Linked DNA regions of Homo sapiens. The protein of the gene in region 1 purifies or fractionates together with the protein of each later gene. This does not show direct contact. Each region holds a gene or a part of one and is shown on either strand. Other genes may lie near its edges.

What was found.
Region 2: the proteins of DAW1 (region 1) and RALY purify together in Homo sapiens (affinity purification with mass spectrometry, with the first as the bait; one large-scale study listed by BioGRID). This does not show direct contact.

Annotation. Positions count from the first base shown.
Region 1 is NC_000002.12:227,902,612-227,906,427, reverse strand, and holds part of DAW1 (dynein assembly factor with WD repeat domains 1), read right to left. Parts: intron 3,427-3,816; coding exon 3,319-3,426; intron 1,500-3,318; coding exon 1,393-1,499; intron 193-1,392; coding exon 90-192; intron 1-89. UniProt on the Homo sapiens protein: Required for axonemal dynein assembly and ciliary motility in ciliated organs, including Kupffer's vesicle, during embryogenesis. Facilitates the onset of robust cilia motility during development.
Region 2 is NC_000020.11:34,077,095-34,080,910, reverse strand, and holds part of RALY (RNA-binding protein Raly), read right to left. Parts: coding exon 3,666-3,816; intron 2,407-3,665; coding exon 2,362-2,406; 3' UTR 2,358-2,361; intron 1,002-2,357; 3' UTR 1-1,001. UniProt on the Homo sapiens protein: RNA-binding protein that acts as a transcriptional cofactor for cholesterol biosynthetic genes in the liver. Binds the lipid-responsive non-coding RNA LeXis and is required for LeXis-mediated effect on cholesterogenesis.

The DNA.
Region 1 (3,816 bases):
TTGAAATCTGTTAATGTTACAATGGATATCTGACACAGTAAAGAGTATAGACACAATATAAAGCAAAGATATTTATTTATTTTGCTCACCTTGCAGGTTTTGTCCATAGAGCCAGTTAATATTAGAGAGCAATCCCAATTGAATGAGGCACTGCTAATCTCAGCACAATGACCAATTAAGATATTTACCTTCCTACAACACAAAAATAATTAAAACTAGTGAAAGATATCTTACTTCAGTATATGCACATGAATAATGAGGCCAAGCCCATCTGTGTAAGCTAATCTAAAATCTGGTTTTTACAAAATAATATATTTGATGACAAATATGGCTCTACTATTGCTCAAAAAGAAGCTACCAATAATTTCATTTCAGCCGGGCACGGTGGCTCACGCTTGTAACCCCAGCACTCTGTGAGGCCGAGGCAGGTGGATCCACGAGATCAGGAGATAGAGACCATCCTGGCTAACACAGTGAAGCCCCGTCTCTACTAAAAATACAAAAAATTAGCCAGGCGTGGTGGTGGGCGCCTGTAGTCCCTGCTAATCGGGAGGCTGAAGCAGGAGAATGGCGTGAACCCAGGAAGCGGAGCTTGCAGTGAGCCGAGATCACGCCACTGCACTCCAGCCTGGGCAACAGAGCGAGACTCCGTCTCAAAAACTAACTAACTAAATAAATAATTTCATTTCAACAAAAATGTACTTAGATTTTAAACTATCAAAATAATGCTACTTAAGGCAACATTTCAAAAAGACATGGGTAACAAATAGTAAAGGCCGTAAGAAGTAGTCTTACACCGGGTGAGTGCACCCCTGGTTGTTCAGAAACTACACATCAAGTAACTGAAAGGTCCTTCTTCCTCTATCATTTCTTGTTGCATACATCTTGGTTGGCACCCCTGATAATTAGCCCCTCTATTAAATCACAGACAAATCCAAGAGTAGAGTTTTCCAACACAAATATGCTAATTTAGTTAACTTCCTAGCAACTAGGACCAAAAATCATTAGGAAGGAAATTGAAGTTCTTGGACTAAATTAATTTGGGAAATTAACTAAGAGTTTTTATTTATACATGATATTCCTGCCTAACATAATGACAAGCCATTGAAATCTGATTATCCATGAAATAAATAATAGCTATATAACCAGACTATTGCTAACATTCTCCTTTTATGTTGCTGTTTGTCATTATTTGCTCAGAATTCAAAGAATGCACATATTTTGTGAATCAGAAATATCATTAAAGAATGAATTAATTTACATTTTCAATATGTCCTATTTTTATGGAATCCAAAGCAGAGTTAATAGATAGTAGCTTAAACTAAAAAATAACAGAGGGTTTTCTGAACCCCCTGATCCAGGTTAAAACAATTCTTAAGAACTAAGAATTACCTTCCAGTATCAGCGTCCCACACTACAACGGTATGATCAAAAGACCCCGTGATGATTCTGTCTCCTGAGGTGTTAAATGACAAGGAGATGATTTCGGCAGAATGTCCCTAGAAAAAGAGCAGATACTGTCAAGTATACCTGCAGATAAAACAATTTCTGCAAGCGTACAATATCATAGTCTAAAAGGAAATGCTGGAGAAGGCCGAGCTCTAGGAACGGAGGTCAGCGGTTGGCTGGGGTGAGGATGGGGAGTGTCTGCACGTGGGCACAGGGTTCTTTTTGGGGTGATGGAAAGGTTTGAAAACTAGGTTTTGGTAATGGCTGCACAATACTGTGAGTTTACTAAAAATTAGTGACTTACACACAGCTAGTTCATTTAACTTAATAATATTGATTAAAAACAAAAGAAAGAGGTTGTATTTGGGGAAACTAGAGGACGTCCTTTACACTGCCTTGGAAACACTACAGAGCAGGGGATGCCATGGGCTAATAACACATGGTATGCAAAAGTAAACAGTGTATGAAATAAAACTAATTACTTTTAAAAAGGAAATTATTAAGATAACTTGACATGAAATCGATTGATAAATTCCTGCCTTTGGCCTGACTTTCAGCTGGTTACTGTCTAGTGTTAGTGAATCAAACTGTAAGATAATGGGAAGAAACCACTCTCCACAGCAGATTCTGGAACTCTGATAAGGGGATCCTGGTTGGAGTACATATATCCCTTGATTCCTTCATTATTTTAGTAAATTAACATAAGTATACTTTTAAATAATACAAAGAATTAGAAAAGTTGAATTATAACTTGATTTTTCTGATTGATTTCAAAGGACAAAATGAAATGTAGTTGAATATTCGAATTCTAAGTACGCAAAACAAATTCACTCTCTGGCGCAGACAGGTGTGCCAAGCAGGACCCCTCCCATTGAGTGCTCTTAGGCACGTCTGTAAAAGGAGTCATTTTAGTTGAAAGTGTGGCATTAATGGGGACCTTTCCCTGCACATTTGCCTGAAGGAAGAGATAGTAATGATTTAAAAAAAAAACGAAAAAAGAACTGAGAACAGAAAGAGTATACTTACACTAATAATGCTAGATACTCAGATTTAAGAAAGAAAAGCCATTACTGTTATTTTAAAATGGTGATTTTTTTTCTTTTGCAGTCCATGTTTTAACTTGCTTAGAAAAAGCTTTCTGAGGAAACAAATCATGTTTTTAAAAATGTACTTATAATTTTGAAAGGACAAGGAAACTGAATTTCCCATCTGGCTGTTCCTGCTGATTACAACATAGGGTCACTCTAGTTTTGTTGCAGTGACTTGGGCTGGGGTGGGAGGAAGGGGAGGGTGGGAGGAAGGGGAGGGTGGGAGGAAGGGGAGGGTGGGAGGAAGGGGAGAGTGACAGATGGCGGGGAGGTGCTGGGCACATGGTGGTGACACACAAGAGCATGCCCCACAGCACTCACTCTGTGGGCAGAGCCCTTTGGCCTTTTCCCCTCTGGTCACTTGCCCCTCTGTCATTTCAGACTTTTGTGATACAGGATGGCTGAAAGACCAGCGGGCAGAGGAGAGTGTGCTCACAGTCATTGCTCTAAGGATTCTCTTGTCATGGTTCTCCAGTTCTGCCTCTTCCAAAAGTGCCAGCCTCCACCTGCTTTCCTTTTAGCCAGAGAGATGGTGATGGGTTCTAAGATATAGTTTATGTGTTTTGCAGACTAAAGTTAGTCAAAATAAAAAGCTCCTTGGACTTCCCCAGCACCTCCACCCAAGTCTTTTGGAATAGCCAGGAAACCAGTAGGGACACTCTTTCACCACTAAAATTTGAAAACCAGCAACTCAACAACCTCCAACTTAGAGCTCATTTTGTAACAAAAACACAAATAAGAATGAACACAAATAACAGGCTTATTAACATTATTGACATACTCTTAAGGTGTAAACTTCCTCGCCATTCTGAATGTCCCACAATTTGGCTGTTGTGTCCATACTTCCAGTCGCCACCAATGTGCTTTGAGGGTTAAATGATAAACACACCTAAATTACATAAAATGGGAGAAATTTTAGGAAGACAGAGTTTCAAAGTGTTAATTATACACAGAAAATCTTCCAGATGCAATTACCTTACCAGATTCCATCTAATTCTTTGTACAAAACCCCACGTATGTGTGACCTGCTACCCCCAGGTTGAGTCCTTCAGAGTCCTCCTCTTGAAAAGAGGCTGCTTGTTCTCCCACAGCACCCAGCTAAGGCTTGGAGGGGCACTAGCTCCCTTTGCCACTTCCAGACCACAGAAGAACAAGAACAAAAGTGAAGCCCACCTCCTTTAAGATCCGTGCTATATGGCTCTCCTTCTCCTTGCTGCTGTCACCACAGTCCTTCCAATCACAGCCCCTCACTCATCAAGAGACTACTGGCTTGTAGTCT
Region 2 (3,816 bases), on another chromosome or scaffold:
CTATTCCTTGCTACCAAACCTGCCCGGAGTGTGAAGAACTTGTGTGTTTTGTGAGACTGAGATGTAGGGTTTGTGTCAGGGGCAGGAAAGGGGTGGTGACAAGAAACAGGAGAGGCTGGAGTAAGCAGGATCTTACACCCTACATTCAGGAGGTAGGGTTTTGTCCTGATGATGAAGAGTCAGTAAAGGGATTTTAGGCAGGGAAGGGATACGTTTCAGAAAGACTGCGTGGCTGCTGGGAGATGGTACAGGGCAGAGGCAGAAGACTGGGAGGCTGGTGGGAGGACAACGTCCAAATGAAAAAATTATAGTGTCCTAAGCCAGAAGAGAGAAGGTAGAGACTGGCAGACTCTAGAATCCTTTTAAGAGCTGGGAAAGACCAGACTTAGAAGCTGGGGAAAGAGATAAGGTCTTGACCTACTATGGGGTAAACCAAGTGGGTCACAACTGCTTGACACTTCAGCCAGCAAGATGCTCATGGGCCAGCATATCCAACCCTCCCCAGTGGCCCCACTGGCCATTTTAATCACCACTGAGGACACTAAGGTCCAGATGGATCAGTATTAGGCACCCTAGACCAGCTTTTTGGTTGGCAGAGGGGCCGGGATATCTTCATGAGAAAACACAAACCATCCCATCTCAGAACAGGTTGGGATCCAATCTCTTTATTGTCAGGGTCCCCTCCCTGTGGCCCCCCGCCAAACCTATAGAAAAAACCCAAGCCTGGGAGTGTCCTGGGGAGGGGAGGTAGTATGGGGAAACCCCTGTGCTCTACCCTCTGGCCTGGGCAGTGCAGACAGGGAGGGCTCATGGGGAAGGAGTAGGCCAGTAACTCCACCTGCAGAGGACATGGCACTGGCTGGGATGCGTTGGGGGAGGAGGCGCCTGCTGCCAGCTTTCCTCTGGTACCCGCTGGGGGGTGGCATCCAGGGTTGGGTGCCCGGCTTGAGGCCTGGGGCAGCGATGCCCTTCACCTGCTGGTGGCCATTGCTCCTGTCAGGCTGAGAAAGAGAGAGAGAGAAAGAAGAGACTAAGGCTGAGAGGAAGAGACCCTGTTGCTGATAAAAGGGGTAGGGAAGAAAGGGTGGAATGATGTCTGGAGACAGAGAGATTCTTGCACTCTGGCTGTGGCCTCATAATTTCCTGGCCATGTAACCTTGGGCAAGTCTCACCCGCTCTCTGAACCTCCATTTCCTCACCTGAGCCCATATAACTCACCTGTGAACTATTTTAACAAGCTTTGGAAAGCACCAGGCACAAAGGGGTGTAGCAGGATGGCTGGATATGGAGGTTTGTTTGCATCCCAGGCAAAACAAACCAAGAAGTTCCAAAAGAAGACTGCATATGTACAATTTTCTAAAGCTCTTCTGGAAGCCTTTGCTGGTGGGATATCTTACTACAGCATAAATGTGTCATCTATCCAGACACCTCCCTGGAAACACTAGTGTTTGAGACCTTCCTCCACCCAAGCCACCCCAAGGGAATGGGTCAGAGAGTAGTAGGCACAGCCAGGTGTGGCCTGGCTTTCCTTTAAGGTAGGGCAGAGTAGATGGTAAACAGTGGCCAGAGAGTGGGCTTTGAAGCCACACACCACTGGGCTGAAATCCAGGCTCCACCAACTACTACCTTATCTCCCTGCACCCTTTAGTGTCTGTTTCCACATCTATTATATTGGTACAATCATCAGCTTGTGGGATTGAAGATGAACTCAGAGAAAGCAGGTGCAGCTCCTGTCACACAGGGCATTTCCTCCCCATGAAAGAATCAAATCCCAGCCCCTAAGCCTGACACATACGGCCCTTCACAATCATCACCCTCTGACAATAAGCAGAGTCCTCTACCAACTAGGGGGGCACTGCAGCCACAGGAGGCTCTTGGCCTCACCACATACCAAGGACTGTCACAGCTCTGTATGGCTAAGGCCATTCCCCTGGTGTGGAACATTGCTCCCTCAATCACTAGCAGGCTCAGCTACACATCATCTCTTCCATGACCTGGCCTCGCTCTATTGTTATCCTGCTCACACTAGGTGGTAATGGCTTATGTCTTCCTCTACCAGACTAGGAGCTCCTCAAGGGCAGAGACAGGCAACATGGCTGAGTGTGCTGAGGGAAGGAACCCTTGCTAGGTGGGCCCGCCTGGCCCATCTACGGCACCTGCTTCCTCAGCATGGCAAGCCCCAAGCATGAAGGGGTGTGACGGGATGGCTAGATATGGAGGGGACTTCATTCTTGGGTATAGTCAGTGCTACTTGGCCAGGTATGCTTCGTGACACTTCCTGCCCAATCCAGGGAAAAGGCACAACCTCCACTTCACTGATTCCCCACCCTCTGCCCATCAGGACAGGACCCCTGTACCTGCTTACTGCAAGGCCCCATCATCCGCGTCTGTGTCCTGGCTGTGTTCCTGATAGGGAGGAGGTAAGAGAGACCACACATCACTCATTGCCAGCTCTGAGTCCTGCCCTGAGCCATTTGTCCAGAAAAACTTCATGGTCCAGAGGGCATCTAGAGGACACAGTCAGAAGACGCAGGAACAGCCAAGGGGAATGACTATGGGACCAGCCAACAAAGCTGGCTTGGGAACTTGGAAGGGTGGTCTGAGGACCCCACACAGGCCAGTGAAGGGTGTTCTGGGAGTGGCAGGAGCCCCATTTCTGTGCAGAGAGCCTGCACTGGAGAAGGCTGAAAGCCTTATAGACTGGTGAGCTCCCCATCTCTGGGGGCATCCAAGTCTTTGTTAGGGCCTTTATGGACACTGCTATGCCTGAGAAAATAAGATGAAGGATCAGGCTACGCTCAAAGGAGAGATGAGCTAGCATAAGGCAGACCTCCTAACCGTCATGGCCATGAGCCCATCTGTTCTCACGATAGAACCCAGCAGTGCTGAAAAGGAGAAAGCTGCAGATCCAGCAAGTCAGTCTGGACTCCAACCCTGGCTCAGTCCCTACGAGCTGATGCCCTGAGCATGCCACTCAGCCTTTCTGAGCCTCGATTTCCTCACAGGGTAAAATGTGGGAACAGAATACTCTGCATAGTACAGGGCTCTTGTTAAGGTTATGTGAAGTTAGAGAGTATGATCTGGGTCTTGGTGCTCAATGAGCGCTCATTAAGTAAATGAGCAGCAAGTGTACAACCCATATCCCACAGACTCAGAGTTTGGTCCACCCTCCCACTCAACATAAGCTCCTTGTCAAATGGCCTGCCGGCCTCAGCCTGAATAGTTCTAGTAACAGGCGGGGAGCTCACCCCCTTATGAGACAGCTTTTGCTTCATGCTTAAGCAGCAATGGCTTTTAGAAAAACCCACCTCCTGGCTGTGGCCTCCACAAGCCACCCCAGCCCTGCTCTGAAGCTCTGCAGGCCGTGTGTGCTCCCTTATGTCCGAATCTCCCATTCTCCAACTCATGTGGAAACCGGAGGCCAGAATGTGCCCGCATTTGGGGGAGGTCTGCCCTAGGCCTCAGTGGGACTTCTGATGGTGTCTGAGATAGGCAAGTGCCCCCTGCTCATTCTTCCCTCTTTCCCCCAGGACCAGAACCCCTGGGAAGGAGAGAACAGGAAGTTCACAGTGGGGGCAACCAGCTCAGGCTGCCCATTCCCCTGTTGGCCTCCTGAGAGTAGGAGCACAGTCGAGTCCCAGTCGTGCCCCTGGCCAGGCCCTCACCAGCTCTTCCTCGCTGTGTGTCAGGAGCCCTTCCTCATCGCCGTCGTCTCGGGTCCGTGCTTCCCCCTGGGGCAGGCCTGCCTCAGAAGTTGTGTTCTCTTGGGGGGCTGGTGGCCGGCTGCTGCCACCGCCACCGCCACCACCACTGCCA